Linked DNA regions of Homo sapiens. The protein of the gene in region 4 purifies or fractionates together with the protein of the main gene of each other region. This does not show direct contact. Each region holds a gene or a part of one and is shown on either strand. Other genes may lie near its edges. The genes, in order: NRP1, GOLGA5, TMEM63A, HTR1E, ABCC1, ITGA2 and CLCC1.

Region 1 (3,500 bases), on a different chromosome or scaffold from region 4:
AGACTCCTTCTCAAAAAAAAAAAAAAAGAAAGAAAGAAAGAAGGGAAATGCAGATAAAATGGTGTGAAGAGGCCCAGAAATGGAAAACTGTGTCCAGTTGCAGAGAACAGAAAAACTGAGTAAACGATGTGGCATTTGAAAACAGGTCAGGATTTTAAGCAGTTCAGATAATGGAAAAGGGTAACATGACAGGGAATTCCTTGTGGAGGGAACAGAAAGAAAGCTCCCAAACTCCCAGAAGTAAGGAAGTTCTTCATGCCAATTGGCACTGGTTAAAGGAGTGAATGGGGAGAGGCCTTGCAAGGACATGACATGGAAGGCCTGCATGCCTGACTGAAAATGACGTGCGTAATTTCTAGACAAGAAGGCACTGAATGTCTGAGTAAAGAAACGACATGATCTGGACCATAGAACTCATGTGGAAAGTATCTGAGTAATGAATTCTTAAGGTTCAGCTGATAATGTGGACTTAGTTTAATTGCATTAGATGTTTGCCTCTCACTTAGGGGTAGTTATATTTTTAGGCTAAATTTTTATTATATAACGCAGAATTGAGTTGCTTCAAAGAAAAATAGGTTATCATTCTTGCACATGTTCTTGATTAGGATGTACAGTTTCTAAAGGAAAATACTTGAAGTGTTGGACATTTTGTCATTAAGCCAGCGTTGAATTCATCAACAACTGATACTCTCCTTGTGCTCAGAAGCTCCTTGGGCTGCTTTAGAAGACATAAAAAGGTCTATGATGCTGTTCATTGCCTTTGAAGATCTTATAATCTAGCTGTGGGTACATGACTAACAATCTTAAAGCCTTAGAGAGCAGTGGAATGCTGAGCTCTGTGCTACTTACATCATATTTCTGAGAAGGGAGAGCTCAGAATAAAAGCTAGAGTAGCTTGAAAAGTTCTCTTCATGAGTCTTAAGCTGGGTTTTGAGCAAAGGCAATGATGAGGATGACGTCTAGACTGTATGAGAAGAGAATTGCTTAACTGAGATGTATTGTCAGTAATAGAAAATCAAATTAGGCAAATGGGATGAAGTCAAAATGAGGGTCTTGAATGCCAGATCGAGTTTTGATATCTTCCTATCAATAATGGAAAACCATGGTACATTTTCAAAAGATATCTCTTTTCTATTGTCGGGGTAAAATATACATAACATAAAATTTACCGCTTTAACAATTTTCAACCACTTTTAACCATTTTAATTTTATCATTGTACATTTTTAAGTGTACAATTCTGTCGCATTAAGTACAGTCACATTGCTGTGCAAGCATCACCACTATTTCCAGAATTTTATAATTGTCTCAGACTGAAACTCTGCACCCATGAAACACTAACTCTCCCAATCTCCATTTCCCCCAAGCCCTGGCAACCACCATTTTGCTTTCTGTCTCTACGAATCTGACTGATCTAGTGATAGGCTACTCCTATCCATGGAATCAGACCATATTTGTCCTTTTTTTGTTGGGCTTCTTTCACTTAGCAGTGGAGATTTTTGAGGATGAGAATGACATGCTTAAAACAACATTTTCTGAAAATTTAAGTAGCAGTTGGTGTAGTGGAGATTCAAAGTGGGGTCTGGGAGGCCAACCAAGAGCTGATGTAGCACCCTGGCCAGAGCGCTCGGATCAGGATAAATCCAGAAGAAAGGAAGGTAGCAACAAGAGTTCTGTTGCTTTCTTGTACTTAATAAAAACAACAGGATTTGGCAGCAAAACGGAAATGACGAGATGACTAGGCAGGAAGTGGATGATTGGTGATGCCACCAATTAAAAGACAGGGTTCAGTGAAAAGATGCAGTATCCAGGGGAAAGGACTGTCTTAGTCTGCTTGTGGTACATTTGAGATGACAGTGAGACATTCATGTGGAAAGTCCCCAATGCAATTAGAAATAGGGGTGGGGAGAACAGTTGTGGGGGATCATGGTCACTATTCTCCCACACTCAATTCAAATGCCACCTCCCCTGGGAGGTCCTCTATTACCTCTGCAGGCTGAGTATGCATTCGTTCTCTTTACCTCTGCATCACTGTCTCTTTACCTTTGTTTTAGCAACCTTCCTGCTATCGGATTGACTTCTATGCATATCTCCAATCCATCATAAACTATGAACTTCTCTTAAGCAGGGCCAGTACTTGATCCAGGGATGAATTCTGGATACCAAAGAGACTGAAATATGAATGTTAAACTTAGAAGATGTCAAAGCGGGGGAAATGTATGTTCTTATTGAAGATTTGCCTTACTGGGATGTGAGTTTAGAGACGGGAATTCTGACAGAGCAGGAGGAAGGTTTGAGGGAGGAAAGATTTACTGTAAAATAATCCAGAGACTGAAAATTGTATATGATTGGGTACAAAATCATGTCTTTATTCCATATGTTGTATTTTATTTCTTAGCATGGAGTCGCCCAGGAAATCATTTTACATTATCTGTTTCATTTCACTTCCCAGATTATCCTTGCTCTGGAATGTTGGGTATGGTGTCTGGACTTATTTCTGACTCCCAGATCACATCATCCAACCAAGGGGACAGAAACTGGATGCCTGAAAACATCCGCCTGGTAACCAGTCGCTCTGGCTGGGCACTTCCACCCGCACCTCATTCCTACATCAATGAGTGGCTCCAAATAGACCTGGGGGAGGAGAAGATCGTGAGGGGCATCATCATTCAGGGTGGGAAGCACCGAGAGAACAAGGTGTTCATGAGGAAGTTCAAGATCGGGTACAGCAACAACGGCTCGGACTGGAAGATGATCATGGATGACAGCAAACGCAAGGCGAAGGTGAGGGCTGGGGACTGGGAGGAGGTCATCCCTTATGTCCTTGACTTCAATCAAGGGCCTCTGGCATTCTCCCGAGGAAGGGCTTCTTATTTCCTTCCAGCCATGACATTAGAGGAGGTGTGTGATGGGGTCAGTAAGACCCTTGATTCTAGGAAGACAGGAATATGGCATGAAAAGTGATGTCTGAGATAACATGCAAAAGAATTGCATTGCTGGTCCCATTCCCTGGCTGTAGGGATGGACAGACAGCTCAACATGCAGACAGGAGACGGGGAAGCCCAAGGCTGACAGCAGCCATCCAGCCAGCGCTCAGAACCCCTTGCAGATACCACTCAGTCGTTTGGGTCTGCCCTCCCCCCATCTCAAACCTACCCCTAGTTTAAGTGCTTTGTTTCTTTTATAAATTTTTATTGTGGGCCAGGCTCAGTGGCTCATGCCTGTAATCCCAGCACTTTGGGATGCCGAGTCGGGCGGATTGTCTGAGCTCAGGAGTTCGAGACCAGACTGGACAGCACGGTGAAACCCCATCTCTACTAAAATACAAAAAATTAACAGGGTGTGGCAGCGTGTGCCTGTAGTCCTAGCTATTCTGGAGGCTGAAGCAGGAGAATTGCTTAAACCCGGGAGGCAGAGGTTGCAGTGAGCTGAGATTGCACCACTGCTCTCTAGCCTGGGTGACAGAGTGAGATTCCGTCTCAAAAAAAAAAAATTAATTGTG
Region 2 (3,500 bases), on a different chromosome or scaffold from region 4:
GGGAAAGGCCTTGGATGGCTATATTTTTAACAAACTTCCTGGTTGATTTTAATGCATTGCCATGTTTGGGAGTTACAACTTTACATTTCCTATACTTTAGCTCCTAACAAATTAAGAATTTTTTCCCATCCCTACTATGTTGTTTGGCTGAGCTAATAAATCCCATAAGATATCCGAATGGATGGTTGTAAAATATGTTTCAAAGCTAAATGATATCATTAATTATGATATAAAAATTTGTCACAGAGCGAGTTTGCTGCACGCCTTAATAAAGTGGAAATGGAACGTCAGAATTTAGCAGAAGCAATTACACTGGCCGAAAGAAAATACTCAGATGAGAAGAAGAGGGTTGATGAACTGCAGCAGCAAGTCAAGCTGTATAAGTTGAACTTGGAGTCCTCTAAGCAGGAATTAATTGACTACAAGCAAAAAGCTACTAGAATACTGCAAGTAAGCATGAAATGTACACTTTTGGATGTTAAGATGTGCAAGTTAACTGAAAGGCAATTTGAGACTGTGTAGATACTGTGTGAGGTGCTTTGTTCATGTTCGTCTGATTGGCTAGCTTTAGGTGCCTTACTCTACTTTAGAAATTTTATTAAAGGATGCAGTGTTTCTTGTTCCTACCACTTCTTTTAAAAAAAAAATTCATTCTGCCACTGCCTAGTTCAGGTCTTCAACCTGTCACCTTACTCACTGTGATGATATTAATGCTTGTTGTTGAGCAGCTGTTTATTCTTCCTTGTTGATCTCCTATTGAATTTTTGCAGCAACTGCTTTAGGACTCATCCAGTTCTCAGAATTGTCTCACCCAGCTTTTTTTCCCCTCCTTCAGATCTAAGGTGATCTTACCCTCTACTTTACTAAGAAAGACTACAGTCATCTAATGTCGTTTTTGAATTCTCTTTCCTTTGTCCCTCAGAGGGAAAACATGTCCTTTCATTTTTTTCTAGGATCATTTTCCTGCCTGTGCATTGATTCCATCTCCCATCTCATGTGTAAGCCCTTTCTCCATAGATCTATGCCCTTCCTTCCTGTGTGTGCCTCTCTGCTGCTGCTGCCTTCTGGCTCAGCTTACTCAAGAGCACATGGTTATTTAGTGGAAAAATGAAGACTAGATCTCGGACTCCTGCCTAAGAGAAAAACAGTCTCTTTTAGCTTTGTGACCACTTTGCACTATTTCCCTATCTTCCTTTCTTTCAGTGTCATGCTTACCAGAATTGTGTACGTGCTGTCTTCATTTCTGTAGAACTTGTTAACTCTTATCTCCTTCTTTTCCTACTACATGTCTGAAATTTCTTCTCAAAAATATTTGATGACCTAAATAAATATTCTCTGTCCTTTTCTTAGTCTCCATACCTTGTATTTTGGTAGAACATTTGGCTCTGTTAACCCTCCCACTTCCTTGGAACTCCTGCCTTCTATGCTATTCACATCTCCTTGGCTCTCTTTTTGTCCTCTTCTACTGCTGTTTCTGTCTCTCTTGGGCGCTCTTCCCAATCTCCAAAGAGTCAGAGTCCTCCTAAGCTCTGTCCTGAACCCTCTTTCATTGTCCTTTCTTACCTTGCACTGCTGTATGCTGCCTCTGCTTCTAATAGCCGCCTGCATATGACTTCAAGCATGTTTCCAAGCCTGACCTCCTGACCTCAGTGCCCAGCTGCCTACTGTGCAGGCATGGAGTGTTCAGCTCCCAGACCAACTTCTCCCTCATTCTTCTGTTCTGGTCAACGTTACTGCCATGTGGCAGTAAAGCTTGAAACCTCAGGGTCATTTTTGACTTTACCTTTTTTCTTTAGTCTCAAACTTCTAATGGCTATGAATACCTTTTTTTAATGCTACTTCCATGAAGTATCATATTGATCTCCTCCTCAAACTCTTCTTTCTAAGTACTTTTTTGTATCACCCTAATTTGTTAATTCATTGAAAAGTTACTTATTGAGCACCTAACTACTCACTAGGCACAGAGGATACAAAGCTCAAAAGATGTGTCCTCTTCCTTTAAGAAAACATTCATCTTAGTGGAAAGAAACAGATAATTGACGTAATAAGGTTATTAATGCAGTACAATGGGAGCTTGAGAGAAGAATCCCTTAAAACTTGCCTGAGGCTGTCAAAGATCACTGGACTGAGGAGATGTGGTATAAAGAGAAACTTGAAAGATGAATAGGAAGACTCATGATAGGGAAGAGATTTCCGAGAGAACAACCTGTGCCAGAGCAAGGGGGCCAGAGAGAACATGGCATATTTAAGGGACTGCAGCTAGTTCCATACTGCTGGAACATAACGTCTTCAGAGATGGGAGGCAAAAGACTCATAAAGTTCAACGGCAGGCAGAAGCCATGGTCAGGTTTGAGTGTGAGAACTGTGGCAGCCTGATGAAAAGGTTAGGGGAGATTTGGGCCTCTGTCTTGTTCATCGTTGTATCCCCAGCACAGTGCCTGGTATTCGGTACATTGTTGAAAACATGGAAGTGATAAGGGGTGGCATCAATGGCATGTAGATGGTGAAGAGGTGATCATAAGAAATAATGAGGACCTGATCAAAGTTTTTGGCAGTGAGGATGGCAGGCAGGGGACAGCTAAGAGATATGTGGGAGATAGAATATATGACATGTGGAGATTTAACTGGAAGGATGGGGGAAAAAGGCAAATGGAATCCAGGATGACTCCAGGTTTTTGGTTTAAGTGTATGAATGATGTTTCCTTGTGTTAATAAAAGGGGAAACAGGAAAGAGAACAGGTTAGGGTTAAAGGAGAGTATGACGAATTATGGTAAGTATGCAAAATTGATGCAACATTGAGGTGACAATGTTAGAAAGGTAATTAGAAGTAAGTTGGGAGAGTAGGTAAGTTTAGGCAAGAGCGATGTGTAACCTAACGGGGAGAAAGGCTGAGGTCTAAAAACACAGTCTTAAACATCAGCATTTACAAATTGGGCAAAAGGATAGCCTGCAAAAGAAAAATACTGAGAAGGTGAGTGGTCAGAGATTGGAGAGAACCAGGAGGAGACTGATGCCATCCAATGAAGCCAAGCAGAGGGAGAGTTTCAAGTGGTGCATGATCACCAACCACAGCACGCGGCTCTGATGTGACAAGTCCCGAGCTAAATTCCTGGACTTGGCAACTAGGAGGTCCCTGGGGACCTCTCAACAGAGAGTTCCGGGGTGCGCTGGGAGCTGAAGACATGGAGGCAGGGTACTTGACCATGGACATGAGGACAGTAGCTAGATGGGGGAATGAGGTTGGGAGGTTTCTGGTTTTTTATTAAAAAAAATCTTAAAATGTTATAAATGATCATGTTTATTATAGAAAATTTGAAGAATACAAAAGAAGTTTGAAGAAGGAAATGGAAATAACCCATAATCCTACCACCCAGAAAAGGAAAAATTATTTTTGATGGAGGAGAATGACTTTAAAATATTTTAATTTAACGTGAAAGCTGCTGGTCCTTGTTGTTCCTAGTCTAGAATTAGGACTTTATAAACTGGTCTTTGCATGTCA
Region 3 (3,173 bases), on a different chromosome or scaffold from region 4:
TTGTGGGTGGGCCAGCTGATCTCACCCCCAGGCGCTTTAACCCCCTGCTGTGCAGGACGGAGGGGCGCAGGGCCACAGCCTCACCCCTCCGTCGGCTCTTTCACTTCCAGGATGAAGGTCTATGTGCCCACTGGCTTCTCTGCCTTCCCTTTTGAGCTATTGCACACGCCTGAAAAGTGGGTGAGGTTCAAGTACCCAAAGCTCATCTCCTATTCCTACATGGTTCGTGGGGGCCACTTTGCGGCCTTTGAGGAGCCGGAGCTGCTCGCCCAGGACATCCGCAAGTTCCTGTCGGTGCTGGAGCGGCAATGACCCACCCCTCTCCCCCCGCCTGCCACCTCCCCCCACAAGTGCCCTCCAGGCTTTTCTTGGGGAAGATACCCCTTTTCTGAGGAATGAGTTTGCCTCCGTCCCCTGCCCATGCTGGGAGCCCACGCTCACCCCCTCACCCCTCCAAGCTCACTCCCCAACCCCCAACTCCGTGTGGTAAGCAACATGGCTTTGATGATAAACGACTTTACTCTAAAAGCGGCTGGAACTCAGTGACATGAGCGTGCGCTGACCCCACATGGGGCCCCCTGTGCAAGCAGAGCTGGCCGGCCCCTCCTTGCTGGCAGAGGCACGGGAGGCCTGCTGGGGATGAGGCCACTGGCCAGGGCTATGCTGCACCAGACCAATGGCACCGCCCCCACCCCTCCCAGCGCAGGGGCAGCTTGGAGCAGAGGCAGCACTGGCCACCACTGCGGGGGCAAGTCAGCGTCAAGAGAGTCCCTGAGTGAGAAGGCCCAGATAAGCCCAGGCCCCCCAGGCCAGCGGACAGGCACAGGCAGGGCCTACAGAGGTGCCAAGGCCCCAGGCCAGTTGTGCTAGGAGCCTGGACCTGCTCTTCCACACCCCCATCCCGCCCCTACTGCACAGGCTTGTGCCTTGGTGCCCCCTGGAGGCAGCAGGGAGGAGGCTTCTCAGGCAGAAGTCTTAAGTTGCATCCCATTCCCCAGAATCCCCAGGAGGGAGAAGAGGGATGGGCTGCCCCTCCTTCCTGCCAGAGCCACAGCTCAAGGGCAGTGGGATGGCCCTGCACCCAGCCCAGGTACCCCTTCCTCTGTGCCGACCATGCTGTCCTTTGGCTCCGAGGAGGCCCTGAGCACTGCCCACCCCCACACCTTGGAGGGAGCAGACGGAGGGGGTGAGTACTGCACAGAGCCTGCCTGGAGGTGCAGACTCATGCACTCAGCCCTGAAGAGGTGAGAGAGGCTGGATCTTAACTGTGGTCCAATGGGCATATTATGAGTGGTCCTTGTCCCTGCCTGCTATGGGGTAACCCTGACCCAGCTAGCGTCCCTGACAACATGATACAAAAACACAGAACTCTAGCGGGATACAGAGATGTGTGCACAGCTGGCAGGAGCACTGGCCACCTCCCAACCTGTTCCCCATAGCTTACTCCTGGATGTAGCCTGGAGGGACTGCTGGGCTGGGGAGGGACTGGCCATGGAGCAGGGAGCTGGATGCCAGCGGGACCTCAGACCTGGACTGCAGCATCTCTTTGGTTATCGGTTGTGTGTGTGCTCAGAAGGGAGGAGGCCTTCCCCTTGTTACATCTCTCTCTCCATATATTCTCCCGGACTCATCAGTTTGGGGGGCGAAAAGTCCACCACATGGTCTTGGCGACAAACCACTGGGGATGTCACCCCAGCTGCAGAGCTGGAAGCTTGTGCCGGAGGGGAAACTGGGTGAGCAAGGGAGGGGCGAGGCCTGCCTGTGCTCTCCTCACCACTGCTGGGACCAGAAAAGATGGGCACCTGATAGCTCAGCTGGGCAGTCCCAACGCATTCCCACTCAGCCAAGGGCCTGAGCCCCAGGCCATTCTGGTTGTGTCTTTTCAGAGCAGTGAGACCTAAAACAGATGGGAAGAAGTCATGAACTTGGGAGTCAGGCCGCTTCACCTGTCTTCTCACCCCACAGGCTCCCCTGAGCCTGGCCCAGCCAGCAGCTCACCCAGCCTCAGGCCTCCTGGGGGGCAGCAGCCACACTGCCCGTGGCGCTCTGCGCCAAGCACTGTCCAGGGATAGTCCCGCTGATGTTGTGGATGGCACCATAGGTCTGCTGCTGCTGCTGCTGCGGAGACAGTGCTGTCCTCTCCGAGGCCAAGCCGTTCAGAATCCGAGGCACGTAGGGCTGTCAGCAAATGGATTTGTGCTTGGCCTGGACAGGCATGAGCTTCCACACTGCATCCCTCCCCTCCTGCCCTTCTCCCAACAGGACACAGACAGTGGCCATAAAGGACATATGAAGAAACACCGACATCCATTTAGGACATTAAGACCGAAAATATGACACCTGCAGAATTTCCTAGCAGCCAGGGCAAAAGAGAAAGCACAGTTATACAGTTCTCATGATCACAGAAGGAAGCACAAGAGAGCAGTTCTCAGAGGAAACTAAACTTCCTAGCCCTGGATCCTAGGAGGATTTCTCACTTTGTAGAAGAAACAAGTCTACCTATATAGGGGGGCTTAGAACGCTGCCCTGGGACCCCTGGGATGCTCAACATATCTGTGTGAGTCTCATTTTGAGTCTCATTTCCTCCCAATCCCAGGCTCCAGCCACTGACCCCAGGCACAGAGCCCTGCCATACTCCTCCTGAGACCCTGGCTGTGAGGGCTTGACATCATCCACCTGTCCTGCATGTTCCCTGCTTGGCCAGCATAGCCACAGGTGTGTCGCTGGGTAATGAGTCCTTCTGAGGCCCTCCCTTGTTTGGAACTTGTCCAAGGACAGACACCGATAAGAGAGCCTGACACCTGGGAGGCAGCCACCAGAAAGAACCCTGCAGATGAGGTCGGCTCTGTCCTGGCCACGGCTGTCAGGAAGGCTGGTGACTACAGCTCTGGAACCCTGGGGCTCTGCTTTCCCTTCCCAGCCCCACCCTAGGAGCAGGACCCTGGAGGCTGTGTGCAGAGAGAACTAGGAAGGCAAGGAGCCCTGTGTCTCTCTACCATGGGGTCTTCCTCTGAAGCAGGTGCAATGTTCATTTCTTGAATTCAAAGGGAAGTCTGCCTGACACCCTCTTGGAGCCTAGTGGAGGACCTCGCACAGGCAGGTGCATCGCTGATGACAAACCTTTGTCAAACCCTAGCGCCTTACCATGTGCCTTCACTAAAGCCCCAAACTCA
Region 4 (3,326 bases):
GCTCCCCACATCTCAGACGATGGGCGGCCGGGCAGAGACGCTCCTCACTTCCTAGATGTGATGGCGGCTGGGAAGAGGCGCTCCTCACTTCCTAGATGGGATGGCGGCCGGGCGGAGACGCTCCTCACTTTCCAGACTGGGCAGCCAGGCAGAGGGGCTCCTCACATCCCAGACGATGGGCGGCCAGGCAGAGACACTCCTCACTTCCCAGACGGGGTGGCGGCCGGGCAGAGGCTGCAATCTCGGCACTTTGGGAGGCCAAGGCAGGCGGCTGCTCCTTGCCCTCGGGCCCCGCGGGGCCCGTCCGCTCCTCCAGCCGCTGCCTCCCGGGCGGCGCTCGCCGGCCTATACGCCACACTTCTTATCGCCCTCCTTGTCTGCAATTTATTTAAGAAACTGGGTGATTTAACCCGTGAATTTTTTTACAGTTTGGATTCCAATGATTGCATAATCAAAAGGTAGTTTAACATGTTTCTTGATTCTCTGTGGTTTCTTTAAAGTAGTTATTGGTCTAAGATGCTTAAACTTTTAATACATTGACTTTAGACAGCTTCAACTCCATTTGCAATAGCTACTATGTGACCTCTGAATTTTTGGTAGGCAAGAGGTAAAGCAATTGCAGCCCAGAACATCATGTGGAGCCAGGAAATGCTGCTAGGAGAGAGGGTGGCTAAGCTGACAGAGTTGAGGGCAGTTTTCCTGGATCAGTTTAGAGGCCATGTGCAAAACAGAAACCTTGCAGCAGGAGGGAATGACTTATCAAAGGGAAGTGGTATCTGGAAGTGTCTAGGAATGGACAGAAGTCAGTACTTAACACAGGTTGACTGGGAAAATGCTGGGAAGTAAATAGAGAAAGGCAAGTATACCCTGGGTTCCTTCAAAGCAGTTCAGGAAAATATTCTCTAAATGATGGTGGTTACATGCAACGTAAATGAGTTGATCAGGAATGCTCCAGGTCCACCAGCATGTTAAACTTTTAATGGTTGAGACGTTATATAATATTTTCTGGTAATTCAAAGTCTTAGCAAAACTTTGTGGTAAGGATATTTGTCCCATATTTCAGATAACTCTAAGAATGCTAGGAAAGGGGAATATGTCAACAAGAAATGTTACATGTATGGCTGGATGCTATTTTCTATTTTTTCCCTTTCCTTCAGTCAAGCATGTGGCCTGGTTTATGCTTCCTTACCTCACAGATATTTCAGAAAGCGGAAGTATCAGACAGTAATCCCTATTTATGTTCTCAAAAGCCAAGCCCATAGGAGATTTATTAATAAAAGATTTGTAAATAAGTAAAAAAGGAAAAGAGAGCTTTTAATAGGTGGCTGAAAGGGTTAGAAAAAAAAATGAAGGAAGAAAGGAATTTCTCCAATGGTCTACATACCTTTCCCGCGCAAAATGGAGGAACAGAAAAGATCCTGGGGGTCTAAGACTTGGGCCAGAAGTTCTGGAAGTGCCTTGAAGAGTCTATAATATTTTAAAAAGGGATACATGCATGGTGTGGCTAGGGACTTAGGGGCTAGGCATGGGGTTCCCAACCTTAGGACATTTCCTAAGCGTGTTACGGAAGCAGTCTGGGGATCTGAAAGAACTGTAGGAGTGGGGGACAGTAAATATCTTACCAGGGACTTTCTCTGTGCATGCAACATCTGAAACCCCTCTCCCCAACCAAACCTCAATGCCTTGGCCCTAAATAATCCTCCAGAGACTTGGGGGTGTGGTTGGGGTTAGAGAAAGTCTCAAGCATGAGAAGTGAGAAGCTTAGAAGCAGCAATTAGGTTGACACATGTTCTCACTTATAACCGGGAGCTAAATATTGAATAACACATGAACACAAAGAAGGGAGCAATAGATACCAGAGCCTACATGAGGGTAGAGGGTGAGTGGAGGGTGAGATTTGAAAAACTACCTTTTGGGTACTATGCTTATTACCTAGGTGGTGAAATAAGCTGTACACCAAACCCTGCAACACACAGTTTACCCATGAAACAAATCTGCACTTGTACCCTCAAAACCTAAAATAAAAGTTGGAAAGAAAAAAAAGAAAGAACAAAATTAAGTTGACTTATTTTTAATAGGCTTTTATTACACATCAGAGTTTGTGGGATGAAATCTGTCTCCATTACCCAATGCAAAAATCACTGGGAAAATTAGTATAACAAATGACCGCAAACACTTACATAGTACTTACTATGTATTAGGCGTTGTTCTCAGCTTCTACGTGTATTAACACATTTGATCTTCACACTACTTACTTTAGAGAAAGATGTCATTATTCCTGATTTAAAGAGGAGGAAATTGAAGCAGGCTAACGTTAAAGAACATGCTTAGGATTACACTGCAGCTGACAAGTGGCAGGGTCAGCATTCAGAGTCCATGTGGGTAGTCACCACTCCAAGCTTTCTCTCCAAAACCGCTGACTCAGGCACACTTTTTAGGTTAAAGTAAATCAGGACTTATGAAGTGAAATGTCAGTTTTCTAATGGAGGAACCAGATCCAAAATATAAAACCCTCTTTAAGATAATTTTTAAGATGAGCAGGTGCCAGCTGACTCCTCCTTCTTGATAATGCTTAGGTGCTTTGGAAACTCTTCCTGGATGAGAAAGAGATTCTTGTCCCTCTTCATCTGCTGCAAAGGACAAAGCCCCAGAAGAATAATATGCCAAAGTCGGCCTTAACATCTATCATCCCTATAACCTCATCTCCCTGGTGCTCTGACCTTCACTGGGATGGTATAAAGCAGAGGCTCTAGAGTATCCCTGGAAATGAGGAGCAGCGTACACTAACCAGTTTGGTTTAGAGTAATTCTCTCCTATTTGTAATTTTTATGAAAAACAATTTAAATATGGCCTTGGACTCATGATATTTTTTATGTCACAATAAAGTGGAAATTTAAAGTTACAAATCCCCAAAAAGGTCCTCCATCAACTCCTCATAGGATGTATCCATTTTTAGCTCTGATTATTGCAGTTAACTTTCCAAAGTGCTGGGATTACAGGTGTGAGCCACCACGCCAGCATATTTACTGTGAAAGTTTAAAATCTGATTTGAAAGCTGCTTATTATAAGCAATATAATTTTTTCTTTAACGGCCCCAGAATGTTTAATGTTACATAATATGAATATATATTTTCAAATGTAAAAAAAAGCCTTTTTATATATAAACATGTATAAAAGAATAAATATAAATAAGAAATTAATTGGGGTGGCAAAGTACATTTAAAATTTTGTGATGTTTTTGTCAAAAACGATTTGAACAAATTTATAGGAAAAAAACAAACAACCCCATCAAAAAGTGGGCGAAGGATATGAACAGCCACTTCTCA
Region 5 (3,500 bases), on a different chromosome or scaffold from region 4:
GTAATCTCAGCACTTTGGGAGGCCAAGGCAGGCAGATCACTTGAGGTCAGGAGTTTGAGACCAGCCTGGCCAACATGGTAAAACCCTGTCTCTACAAAAATTAGCTGGGTGTGGTGGCGGGTGCCTGTAATCCCAGCTACTTGAGAAGCTGAGGCATGAGCATTGCTTGAACCTGGTAGGCGGACACTGCAGTGAGCCGAGATCGCGCCATTGCACTCCAGCTTGGGTGACAGAGTAAGACTCTGTCTAAAAAAAAAAAAACACAATAAAGGAAAGAAAATTCAGGTCTAACTTTCAACTCCCTAAAAGTTTAACTACTAACAGCTTACTGTTGACTGGAAGCCTTACCGAGAACATAAGCAGTTGATAACACTAATTCTGTTGTTGTTGGTTGTTTTTTGATAGAGATGGGGAGCTTGCTGTGTTGCCGAGGCTGGTCTCAAACTCCTGGCCTCAAGCTATTCACCTGCCTCGGCCTCCTAAAGTGCTGGGATTATAGGCGTGAGCCACTGCACTTGGCCTAACTCATACCTTGTATATATATTATATACTGTATTTTTACAGTGAAGCAAGGTAGAGAAAAGAAAATGTTAAGATTAATTCATAAGAGAGATTTTTACTATTTATTAAGTGGAAGTGGATCATCATAAAGGTCTTCATCTTCATTGTCTTCACGTTGAGGAGGCTAAGGAGGAGGAGGAAGGGGAGGGGTTGGTCTTGCTATCTCAGGGATGGCAGAGGCAGAAGCATAATCTGAGTATAAGTGGACCCGTGCAGTTTAAATGTGTGTTGTTCAAGGGTCAGCTGTTTGTTGAATAAATGAATGACATGAAGTATTACAGTGGCTTTTGGGCGGTGTCGAAACTTCTTTGTAAGGATTTTAAGGATGAAATAATCACTTAACTGTCTGGAATGAACACTCAGATAAACTGAGTCCTCCAGCTTTCTCATCAGATGGCTTGTTTTTTTATTTTATTTTTTTGAGACAGGGTCTTGCTCTGTCACCCAGGCTGGAGTGCAGTGGCGCGACCTCAGCTCACTGCAGCCTCAACCTCCTGAGCTCAAGCAATTCTCCCACTTCAGCTCCCCAGGTAGCTGGGACTACAGGCACACACCACCATGCCCAGCTAATTTTTTTTTTTTTTTTTTTTGTAGAGATAGGGTTTTGCCATGTTGCTCAGGTTGGTGGTGAACTCCTGAACTCAGGCGATCTGCCTGCCTTGGCCTCCCAAAGTGCTGGGATTATAGGTGTGAGCCACCGTGCTTGGCAGAACAGCTTCTATTTCATCTTGGAAAGGTCAGAACAGGGTTTTGTCCACCCCTCTTTTCCCAGGACTCAGTGTCTCACACACAGTGGGGGCTCAATCAACATTAGAATTTGAGTGTTTGAGGTATGAGTTCCAAGCTAGGGGTTAGATATAGCTCACCACTGTGCTGGTTTGGCTTGATTTTAATTATAGGAATGACTGTGATTTCCAATTTTATTTATTTATTTATTTGAGACGGAGTCTTGCTCTGTTGCCAGGCTGGAGTGCAGTGGCACGATCTTGGCTCACTGCAACCTCTGCCTCCTGGGTTCAAGCAATTCTGCCTCAGCCTCCCCAGTAGCTGGGACTACAGGGGCACGCCACCACATCCAGCTAATTTTTGTGTTTTTGATAGAAACGGGGTTTCCAGTATGTTGGCCAGCATGGCCTCGATCTCTTGACCTCGTGATCCGCCCGCCTCGGCCTCCTAAAGTGCTGGGATTACAGGCATGAGCCACTGTGGCCCGCCCTACAATGTTTATTCATTGGCAGATTTCACAGAAACATCTGGATTTCTGGCTTCCCTTGAAAAATCAGAAGTTCTGCTAGCCCCAGGCCCACATTTATACATGGTAGCGGTCCGCTGAGGCTGTCCGTTTCTGAGTTGCTCCAGTTTGCCGCAGTCCCCACCCCTCCCTGTTGTTGCTTTAATTTTAAGGCCAAATGTTTGTTGCCTTTGTTTTATTTTATATTATTTTTTTGAGACGAAGTCTCGCTCTGTCACCCAGGCTGGAGTGCAGTAGTGGAATCTCGGCTCACTGCAACCTCTGCCTCCCGGGTTCCAGTGATTCTGCTGCCTCAGCTTCCCGAGTAGCTGGGATTACAGGCCCGCACCACCACACTCGGCTTATTTTTGTATTTTTAGTAGAGATGGGGTTTCTCCATATTGGCCAGGCTGGTCTTGAATTCCTGAACTCAAGTGGATCACTTGAGTTCCTCAGCCTCCCAAAGTGCTGGGATTACAGGCATGAGCCACCGTGCCTGGCCTGTTGCCTTTTTAAAATTGTGCTTCCTCACACCTGGTCTGCTTCTTGCATGGATGGAACCCACTTTGGCACCTGTTGGTATCTGAGTTGGCATCTCCTGCTTTGCAGGCCAACCTTGAAGTTAGCATCTGATTGGTATGTTGGCTTCAGATTTTCATGGCGAAGTAAGGCCTAGCTTTGATGATCAGCTCTTAGTGTGGTCAGTACAACTCTAGCTCGTGAAAACTTGCCCAAACATTTTGCCAAAATTAATTAATGGCCAGACATCCTGAGGCAAGCTTCCCCCCGCTTAGCAAGAAAACTGGGATAGGGCAGCATCCCTGTGGGTGGAGTGGTGCTGGGGACCTGCACTTACCTCTTAGAGGCTGAATGGTTGAACGGGGCCTTTGAGGAAGCTGTATTTTGCGGGTGGGGACATGGAGCACAGTTGCTCAGTGTCGGCCCCGTTGACATGTAGGCCACATCATTCTTTGTGGCCTGGTTGCTGTTCTGTGCAGCGTAGTCTTAGCCCCAAACCTGGCCTCTACCCCCTAGTAGATGCTGGTAGCACCTCCTCTTGTTGTGACAACCGAAAATGCCTCTAGATGTTTCCATATGTTCCCTGGGGTGTGAAATCACACAGCCACTGGTGTGGAGGAATATGGGGGAGAAACATGGAGCAAGACCTTCCTCCTCATCCTGCATTTCCCTAGGAGGTTGTGGGCTGTCGAAATTCTAGTGTAATTGGCTTACTGGGGTTGCCTTGGAGAAGCTTAATGAGACGTTAAGGAGGTTAAACTCCAATTAGCTAGAGAAGAAACTTGCGGCAGTTTCTTTTTTACTGAGGGCTGTGTCTTTTTACCTTTTTCCATTTTCCCAGTTGGAGTTGTGACAGTTCATTCTCCCCTGGGAAAACAAAAATGGCTTTCTTTTTCTTTTTCTTTCTTTTTTCTTTTGAGACAGGGTCTCCCTCTGTCACCCAGGCTGGAGTGCAGTGGCACAATCATAGCTCACTGCAGCCTCGACCTCCTGGGCTGAAGCTATCTTCCCACCTTAGCCTCCCAGGTAGCTGGGACCAGAGGTGCACACCACCATACCCGGCTAATTTTTGTATTTTTTGTAGAGTCAGGGTCTCACCATGTTGCCCAGGCTTGTCTCAAACTCCTGGGCTCAAGCGATCCTCCTGCCTCGGCCTCCCAAAGTGCTGGGATTACAGGCGTGAGCCACC
Region 6 (3,500 bases), on a different chromosome or scaffold from region 4:
TCCCTCAGAAAAAATGTAAATGAATCTATGCACGGAGAATTTTGCACACAATCCCATGAGGTTTTTGTACATACGCTGAAGTCCTTTCATGCACCCCAAATCCAGAGTCCCTCAATTTACTACAGTCATTCACATAACTTCATGGTCTCTTATCCTCAAAGTAGAACACATCTTTTCCTTACTTGCTATTTTTCATGGCTTGTATTTTTTAGTCCAACATCTTATCTTTGGTACGCTCTAAGATAGAAGAACAAAAAATTAAAAATAGTGTATCTCATCCTCACCAAATCTGCCTCGTTTGATGATTTATAGCATTGAGTGTTTAGATTGGGTTTCAAGTCAATCCAGAGTAGGCATCTTCCTTTGCCCTCCCCACAGGGCTGACAAATGGTTATTTTCCTTCCAATAGATTGAATGTCACAGCTAAAGTTGCCTCTTGTAGCTGTGCTATTATCAAATAGATGGAATATAGGAATATACTGGAACATTTGAGAAGGGGTCAGGAAGAGAGAGGAAGAAAGCTGAAAGTAGAACAGGTCAGAAGAGGGCCTCCCGAGCCGTGTCTGGGATAGCAGAAGTATCTCCGTCTCTCCCGTGTCAGTACTTCTGTTTCTCAAGCATGTCTCATATCCGGCTGTGAGCTTTCCTTATAAATATGTGGAGTGAGAGACTCACTTCTGACTCCTTTGTAAAGTTCATAAGGGTTTACCATTGGCAAATATATGCCTTTGAAAGGGAAATTTGAAGATGGCTCTGTACCTGTCCTGTACTACAGGTTATTACAAAGGTTTGTCTGTATAACATATCATACTAAATAAAGTCCAAAATAACACAGCCAATGGGAAGGCTTGTTCTCTAGCACAAATATATTAAGACAATTCTACAATATGTCAATATATGTTCATATATATTTCATCATTTTTAATAAATCTAAACAACTTATTTCAATGTTTTGCCTACCCTGCATTCTTATGTTTTAAAGGTGATTTGTTTCAATGATCTTCATTTTTCAATTATTTTAGGATATTCTGATGCTGGGTGCAGTGGGAGCTTTTGGCTGGAGTGGGACCATTGTCCAGAAGACATCTCATGGCCATTTGATCTTTCCTAAACAAGCCTTTGACCAAATTCTGCAGGACAGAAATCACAGTTCATATTTAGGTAAGGCATGGTAATAATTGGCTCAGCAAACTTAAGTTCCCTTGCTTTAAACCAGCTCTTTGTTGAATCTCAGGGTGAGTTCAGCAAAATCCTTGAACTGTCATCTAATTATCATATTTATTACACATACATATGTTGTCTCTTTGCCAATCGGGCCTTAAGGCATAACTACTTATTGGAATACTATATTATACTCACTAGTTTCTTCTGGCTGGTCAAGTGGTTGTAATTCCTGGAACATGATTGTGTTCCTCCAAAATGGAAATAGTTCCCAAAAGTCAATACAGTAAGTGATAGTCTTATAGTATTTTAGAGCTCTTAGTCTTCTTGTTCTTATAATAAGCAGCCACTGATTTTGCAGACTTACTATGGGACAGTTCCTGAGCTGCTAGTCTATCTACATAAACATTTAAATCTTTCCAACAAGTCTTTCAGGGATGTTTTGCCTTTGAGAGATAGCAAGATTAACAACTTGTCTAACGTTCAACAACCTAGTAAGCGGCAAATCCAGAATCTGAACCTCAGCCTGTTTCCAAGACCTGTGTTCTTTCTACTGTGCAACACTACCTTTTAAATACATTTATTCATTCGTTCAAGAAATATTTTTTGAATGCCAGGTTCACAGGTGGCTGATGAGAACAGCGTGGAATCTAGAGGCAGTTTTATAGGTAGAAGTCCCACCTGCAAAGGGAAGTGCTGCAGGTCAAAGGACAGGAGCAATTCATCTTAGAAAAAGGAAGACATGTCCTCAGTGATGTATTCAGGAGCACTAGAAACTTTGCATCACATCTAACACAAAAGGATCTCTGGTCACCTTTACTCACTTCTTTTAACTTTATTTTGCTCAGATAGTCAATGTTAATCACTCTGTTGCTCCTTCCCTTTTAGGTTACTCTGTGGCTGCAATTTCTACTGGAGAAAGCACTCACTTTGTTGCTGGTGCTCCTCGGGCAAATTATACCGGCCAGATAGTGCTATATAGTGTGAATGAGAATGGCAATATCACGGTTATTCAGGCTCACCGAGGTGACCAGGTAAATCTCACTGTTTAGCAGGTGAAATTAATTTTAGGGGCAACTGGGCAGGTGGGGAGTCAGGTGAACAGAAATGGAAAACAACATGGCCTGAGTGCCTACTCTGTGATTGGCTCTGTAATCTGAGTTTACTTAGTGTATTCCTTAAATCATCACAACAATACCAAGAAGACAGCCCTCCCTTTTGACAACTTACTGGGAATTTAGCTAGCTTTCTAAGGTCACACAGCGTCCATGGATTGAGCTGTCATTAAAACTCAGTCCTTTCTGGACTCAGAGGCTGTCCTGAATGATTACATCCCCTTCATGTTTTTGACTCCCTGGATTAATAATGCATGGATATTATTTAGTTGTGATGGCAGGCATGTAACCACTGCTTTGTAGGTAAGCACACACTAGGAACAAGGATTTGGAGAGGAAATAATGAGAAGAAGGGAGCAGCACAACATTATAAGGACTGAACTTTTACATCTGAACCTGTCAGAATGTCCTGTTGGTTTTGAAGATTCTAAAAGTAAAACAATTATCTTCTCTGCCACTTTCAGCTGATGGGTGACAGTTTGGTAGTTAGACCCTATGATGAATCCCAGATATGGCCCACTACAGCAAAGATCTGTTGCTAGAGCAAAGGCCAGCTGATTGCTTCCTGTTTCCTTACTAAACAGTTTTGACCCAGGGGCTTGACACACATTTAAAATGAGCATCACTAATCCCTGACAACCAACAAAAAGTGGTTTCCTTCTTTAAGCTGGAGAAACTTACAAAGATTTCTCTTCTCTGAGATTAAGTGTGATCCTGCTGTTCCTATGGATTTTCTAGGAGTAAGAAGACCCGAGTTCTTGACTTCCGTGACCACAAATTAGCTATGGTCACATACTTTTCTCTCTTTTTTAATATTTTAAAGAAGTTCTTCTTTAATTTAGAAAATAACAGTGACAGTGTTATGGAAGGAATCATTTCTTAGTCATTTCTAAATCCTCAAAAAGTGTTCACATAGGCATGCATTGAACGTTGTTGAATGGGATGAAGGTTCAAAGTCTCAGCTTTTCTTATTTTAATTTATCTCCACCTTGTCCTCCTGTCCCAATCTATCCAGCAACTACTTACCTGTCTCATATCATGCCATGTACACTTACATCATCATATGTGCTTTCCCACTTCCCTCTGCCTAGAAAACTCCATGTCCTTCTTACTTTGCAATTTGAATGATATTTTAACTTTCTAAGCCTTCCTGACTCTCCTGCTCTCTGATCACTCAGCCTTTGGGACTTGCCTCTATTACAATTTATTTTACTATAGAAGCTT
Region 7 (3,480 bases), on a different chromosome or scaffold from region 4:
AAGTCTACTTTGACAGCTAGCAAGGCGACATGCAACTGTTGTTGAATGATGACAGCAATTCAGGAAAGACTTAAATATGAAAGCAAATTGAACACATCGGGTGTTTGTTATCAGAAAAGAGATGAGATGAGATAAGACTTGTTTATTGACTAGCCAATATGTCATTAAAATTAAGGTTTATATTGTGAAGCTTTTTTGAAATTTTACTTTTTTTTGAGAGTTTTGCTCTGTCACCCAGGCTGGAGTGAGGTGGTACAATCTCGGCTCACTGCAACCTCCACCTCCCAGGTTCAAGAGATTCTCCTGCCTCAGTCTCCCGAGTAGCTAGGATTACAGATGTGCATCACCATGCCTGGCTAATTTTTGTATTTTTTAGTAGAGATGGGGTTTCACCATGTTGGTCAGGCTGGTCTCGAACTCCTGACCTCAAGTGACCCGCCCTTGTCGGCCTCCCAAAGTGCTGGGATTACAGGCATGAGCCATTGTGCCCAGCCTATATAGTGTGAAGCTTTTAGGAAAATCAGAACAGGGTAGACAGCTGTTAAAAACAATGTTTAAATGGAATAATGTTGAATGTTTACAGGCTGTAAGAACTATTGTATACACAAAATAATACACAAAGTTTGTACTTTGTGTACAAATACAAATTTGTACTTTGTGTACAAATAATACAAAAAGTTTGTATACACAAACTTTTTACGTTGTGGTTTGGTATATTGTCTTAACTGAATTTTCTTATAAGAACCCCATGAAACTTACCTGAGTTTTTAAAATGCTATCCAGGACATCATACCTTATAGTATACATGAAACATAATGTAATCCAGGTTGTAATTTAGAACTTTTTTTTTTTTTTTAGCTGAGCACTTAATGTAATTAATTCCAGGTTATGACTCTTAAAAAACATTGGCCATTAGAGAAATAGTTCTATTTGCCCATCCAAATCACCTGAATGACTTTTTGAAAGAATAGGGGTCCACATCCCCAGATCCCATCCCAGCTGTGCACAGTCTGAAGCAAGCAGAGTGAAACAAGTTGGCAACTTGTTCCAAGCGTGGGCCTTTGCAGTCTGTGATCCAGTGTTACTCCAGGTCCCAGTCTGTCCCATACTTGTCTTTTGCTACAGTTAGTTAGTTACTTTGTTATCATCCCCTTGTAAACTGCCTTCAATATCTGGGATAAGGAAGACAAAGCTTAATGACAACTAAGGTTCTAGCTGACATCTTTCTTTCATATTTAATTTTTGTGAGTTTTCATCTGTTTTCTGTTTGTTTATGTGTCCTAGGTTCTTGACCTAACCACATGGGTTTTGTTTTTTGTTTTTATATTAGAACTTAGAAAAGTTTGTTTTACAGCAGTATTATGGAACAGAAGAGACCATTTTAAATAATTTTTTTAAACAGCCCAAAACACACAAAAGATACTTGTTTTCTAGAGACAGGGTCTTGCTCTGTCACCCAGGCTGGAGTGCAGTGGCACGATCATAGCTCAGTGCAGCCTCCACCTCCTGGGCTCAAGTGGTCCTCCTGCCTCAGCCTCTTAAGCAGTTGGGACTACAGGTGTGTGCCAGCATGCTTGCTGTTTTTTTTTTTTTTGAGACAGAGTCTTGCTCTGTCACTCAGGCTGGAGTCCAGTGGCTTGGTCTCAGCTCACTGCAATCTCTGCCTCCCAGGGGTTCAAGTGATTCTCCTGCCTCAGCCTCCCAAGTAGCTGAAACTACAGGCGCATGCCACCATGCCCAGCTAATTTTTGTATTTTTAGTAGAGACAGGGTTTCACTATGTTGGCCAGGCTGGTCTCAAACTCCCGACCTCAAGTGATCCGCCCGCTTCGGCCTCCCAAAGTGCTGGGATTACAGGTGTGAGCCACTGCGCCTGGCTGCTGATTTATTTTTCATAGACACGGGGGTCTATGTTGCCCAGGTTGGTCTTGAACTCCTAGCCTCAAGCGATCCTCCTGCCTCAGCCTCCCAATGTGCTGGGATTACAGGAATGAGCCACCATGCCCAGCCCAAGAAGTAGAGTTTCTTTTATACTGACTTTGGCCTAAAAAAACAGATTTTCATGGAGGAAAAAAAAACCTAGATTTTTAGTAAGACTATTTTATATACTTTTTTACATTGATCAAGTACATTATTTTTACCAAACAACATTGTTTCCCACTACATCCATGGTTATGTATAAAAAAACGCCATTGTCAATTAAGATGTTAAAAAATTATTTCCATAAGAGTATTAAATTCTAATCTATGATTCACTTAACTTCCTACTTTATAAACACTAGGTAAAGTAATCTCACAAGCTGCCAAAGAACACATCCCAAGCAGTAATCACAGACGATGAAGCACCTTACAGGACCCCTCCACCCTCAAACGCGCATGTCCAGAGAAGTATTAATGCCTTAATAGACTACTGAAGGTTAACTATTTACATCATTCTAAAAATATTTTAAGCTGTATTACAGTGCTATAAATTCTCCTTTTAAGGAAAAAAGTAATAGATTGTTTCCTTACCGTGTTTGAAAGGAAAAAAAATAAATCCATAGTAACTAATGGTCTGCCGATTTTTTCCCTGAATTTTTAAACTCCAACAAAGCATTATTTTGCAAAAAGTCCTTTAGCCCAAAGTCAGTGTCTCTGTTTTGATCTCTTTGTAAAAGAACTCTCTGTTCATCCATTCTCTTTCCCTGGGACCGTAAAATAAGGCTGAAAAAGTCTTCATCTGGTACTGTCGGACCCTTTGTGGTAGCAGGTGGTGGAGCACATCTTTGATCATCTAATCTGGATCCCTAGAAGTTTATGAGAGAGATTAAAAGACATACTGTGGGAAAGAAAGCACCAAGCTATGTTAAATCTCTCAGTCACAACAAGAAAACGCAGTTGTAAACTTTTATTTGGGGCTTCTCAGAAATTAATCTTTGTTTTTATATTGTTCTCTTTAGTTCCCAGCCTGATTTCTGAAAGAAATAATCTTTAAACCTGAAACTGCATAAAATTTTTCCTTTAAAATGGCTTATATAGGTATAGCTGCTTCATTGGTTTAGTACGTGCATTATGTTAAGTCATACTGTTTTAATTATAATTGGTCACAAGGATAAAAGACAAGGTCAACTGTATCTAAGTATGACAGTTCAAGGTTATAATCTAACAGGCATCAACTGTGTAACTTAACAAATCTTTAGAAATATGTACAAACCCCATGAGGAACTACCTTAAAAAAATCACGTCTTAGGCTAGGGGACAGCAAACTGTAACCCAGTGCCGGCTTCTGTAAATGAAGTCATTTTCATTTTCCCATCAATACATATGTTTATATACTATCTATATGGCTGCTTCCCTACTAAATGGCAGAGTTGGGCAGTTGCAATAGATACCATATGGGCGGCAAAGCCTAAAATATTTTCTATCTGGCCTTTTACAGAAAAAGTTTGCCTGCCTCTGTCTTAGGCTGTTAAATCTGTTAAGAAATAGCCCAGAATGAATTT

Evidence for each region.
Region 1: the proteins of HTR1E (region 4) and NRP1 purify together in Homo sapiens (co-immunoprecipitation; one large-scale study listed by IntAct). This does not show direct contact.
Region 2: the proteins of HTR1E (region 4) and GOLGA5 purify together in Homo sapiens (co-immunoprecipitation; one large-scale study listed by IntAct). This does not show direct contact.
Region 3: the proteins of HTR1E (region 4) and TMEM63A purify together in Homo sapiens (co-immunoprecipitation; one large-scale study listed by IntAct). This does not show direct contact.
Region 5: the proteins of HTR1E (region 4) and ABCC1 purify together in Homo sapiens (co-immunoprecipitation; one large-scale study listed by IntAct). This does not show direct contact.
Region 6: the proteins of HTR1E (region 4) and ITGA2 purify together in Homo sapiens (co-immunoprecipitation; one large-scale study listed by IntAct). This does not show direct contact.
Region 7: the proteins of HTR1E (region 4) and CLCC1 purify together in Homo sapiens (co-immunoprecipitation; one large-scale study listed by IntAct). This does not show direct contact.

The regions. Positions count from the first base shown.
Region 1 is NC_000010.11:33,212,668-33,216,167, reverse strand, and holds part of NRP1 (neuropilin-1 isoform a precursor), read left to right. Parts: intron 1-2,346; exon of another isoform or gene 2,347-2,450; coding exon 2,451-2,782; exon of another isoform or gene 2,783-2,930; intron 2,931-3,500. UniProt on the Homo sapiens protein: Cell-surface receptor involved in the development of the cardiovascular system, in angiogenesis, in the formation of certain neuronal circuits and in organogenesis outside the nervous system. Mediates the chemorepulsant activity of semaphorins.
Region 2 is NC_000014.9:92,811,305-92,814,804, forward strand, and holds part of GOLGA5 (golgin subfamily A member 5), read left to right. Parts: intron 1-246; coding exon 247-450; intron 451-3,500. UniProt on the Homo sapiens protein: Involved in maintaining Golgi structure. Stimulates the formation of Golgi stacks and ribbons. Involved in intra-Golgi retrograde transport.
Region 3 is NC_000001.11:225,845,036-225,848,208, forward strand, and holds the end of TMEM63A (mechanosensitive cation channel TMEM63A), read right to left. Parts: intron 2,179-3,173; coding exon 2,005-2,178; 3' UTR 1,999-2,004; intron 1,898-1,998; 3' UTR 501-1,897; downstream 1-500. Other genes in the region: EPHX1 (epoxide hydrolase 1), read left to right, coding at 111-312. UniProt on the Homo sapiens protein: Mechanosensitive cation channel with low conductance and high activation threshold. In contrast to TMEM63B, does not show phospholipid scramblase activity. Acts as a regulator of lysosomal morphology by mediating lysosomal mechanosensitivity.
Region 4 is NC_000006.12:87,010,528-87,013,853, forward strand, and holds part of HTR1E (5-hydroxytryptamine receptor 1E), read left to right. Parts: intron 1-3,326. UniProt on the Homo sapiens protein: G-protein coupled receptor for 5-hydroxytryptamine (serotonin). Also functions as a receptor for various alkaloids and psychoactive substances.
Region 5 is NC_000016.10:15,956,116-15,959,615, forward strand, and holds part of ABCC1 (multidrug resistance-associated protein 1), read left to right. Parts: intron 1-3,500.
Region 6 is NC_000005.10:53,058,852-53,062,351, forward strand, and holds part of ITGA2 (integrin alpha-2 precursor), read left to right. Parts: intron 1-1,022; coding exon 1,023-1,161; intron 1,162-2,049; coding exon 2,050-2,195; intron 2,196-3,500. UniProt on the Homo sapiens protein: Integrin alpha-2/beta-1 is a receptor for laminin, collagen, collagen C-propeptides, fibronectin and E-cadherin. It recognizes the proline-hydroxylated sequence G-F-P-G-E-R in collagen.
Region 7 is NC_000001.11:108,929,005-108,932,484, reverse strand, and holds the end of CLCC1 (chloride channel CLIC-like protein 1 isoform 1 precursor), read left to right. Parts: 3' UTR 1-2,544; coding exon of another isoform or gene 2,545-2,784; 3' UTR 2,785-2,980; downstream 2,981-3,480. Other genes in the region: GPSM2 (G-protein-signaling modulator 2), read right to left, coding at 2,545-2,784. UniProt on the Homo sapiens protein: Anion-selective channel with Ca(2+)-dependent and voltage-independent gating. Permeable to small monovalent anions with selectivity for bromide > chloride > nitrate > fluoride.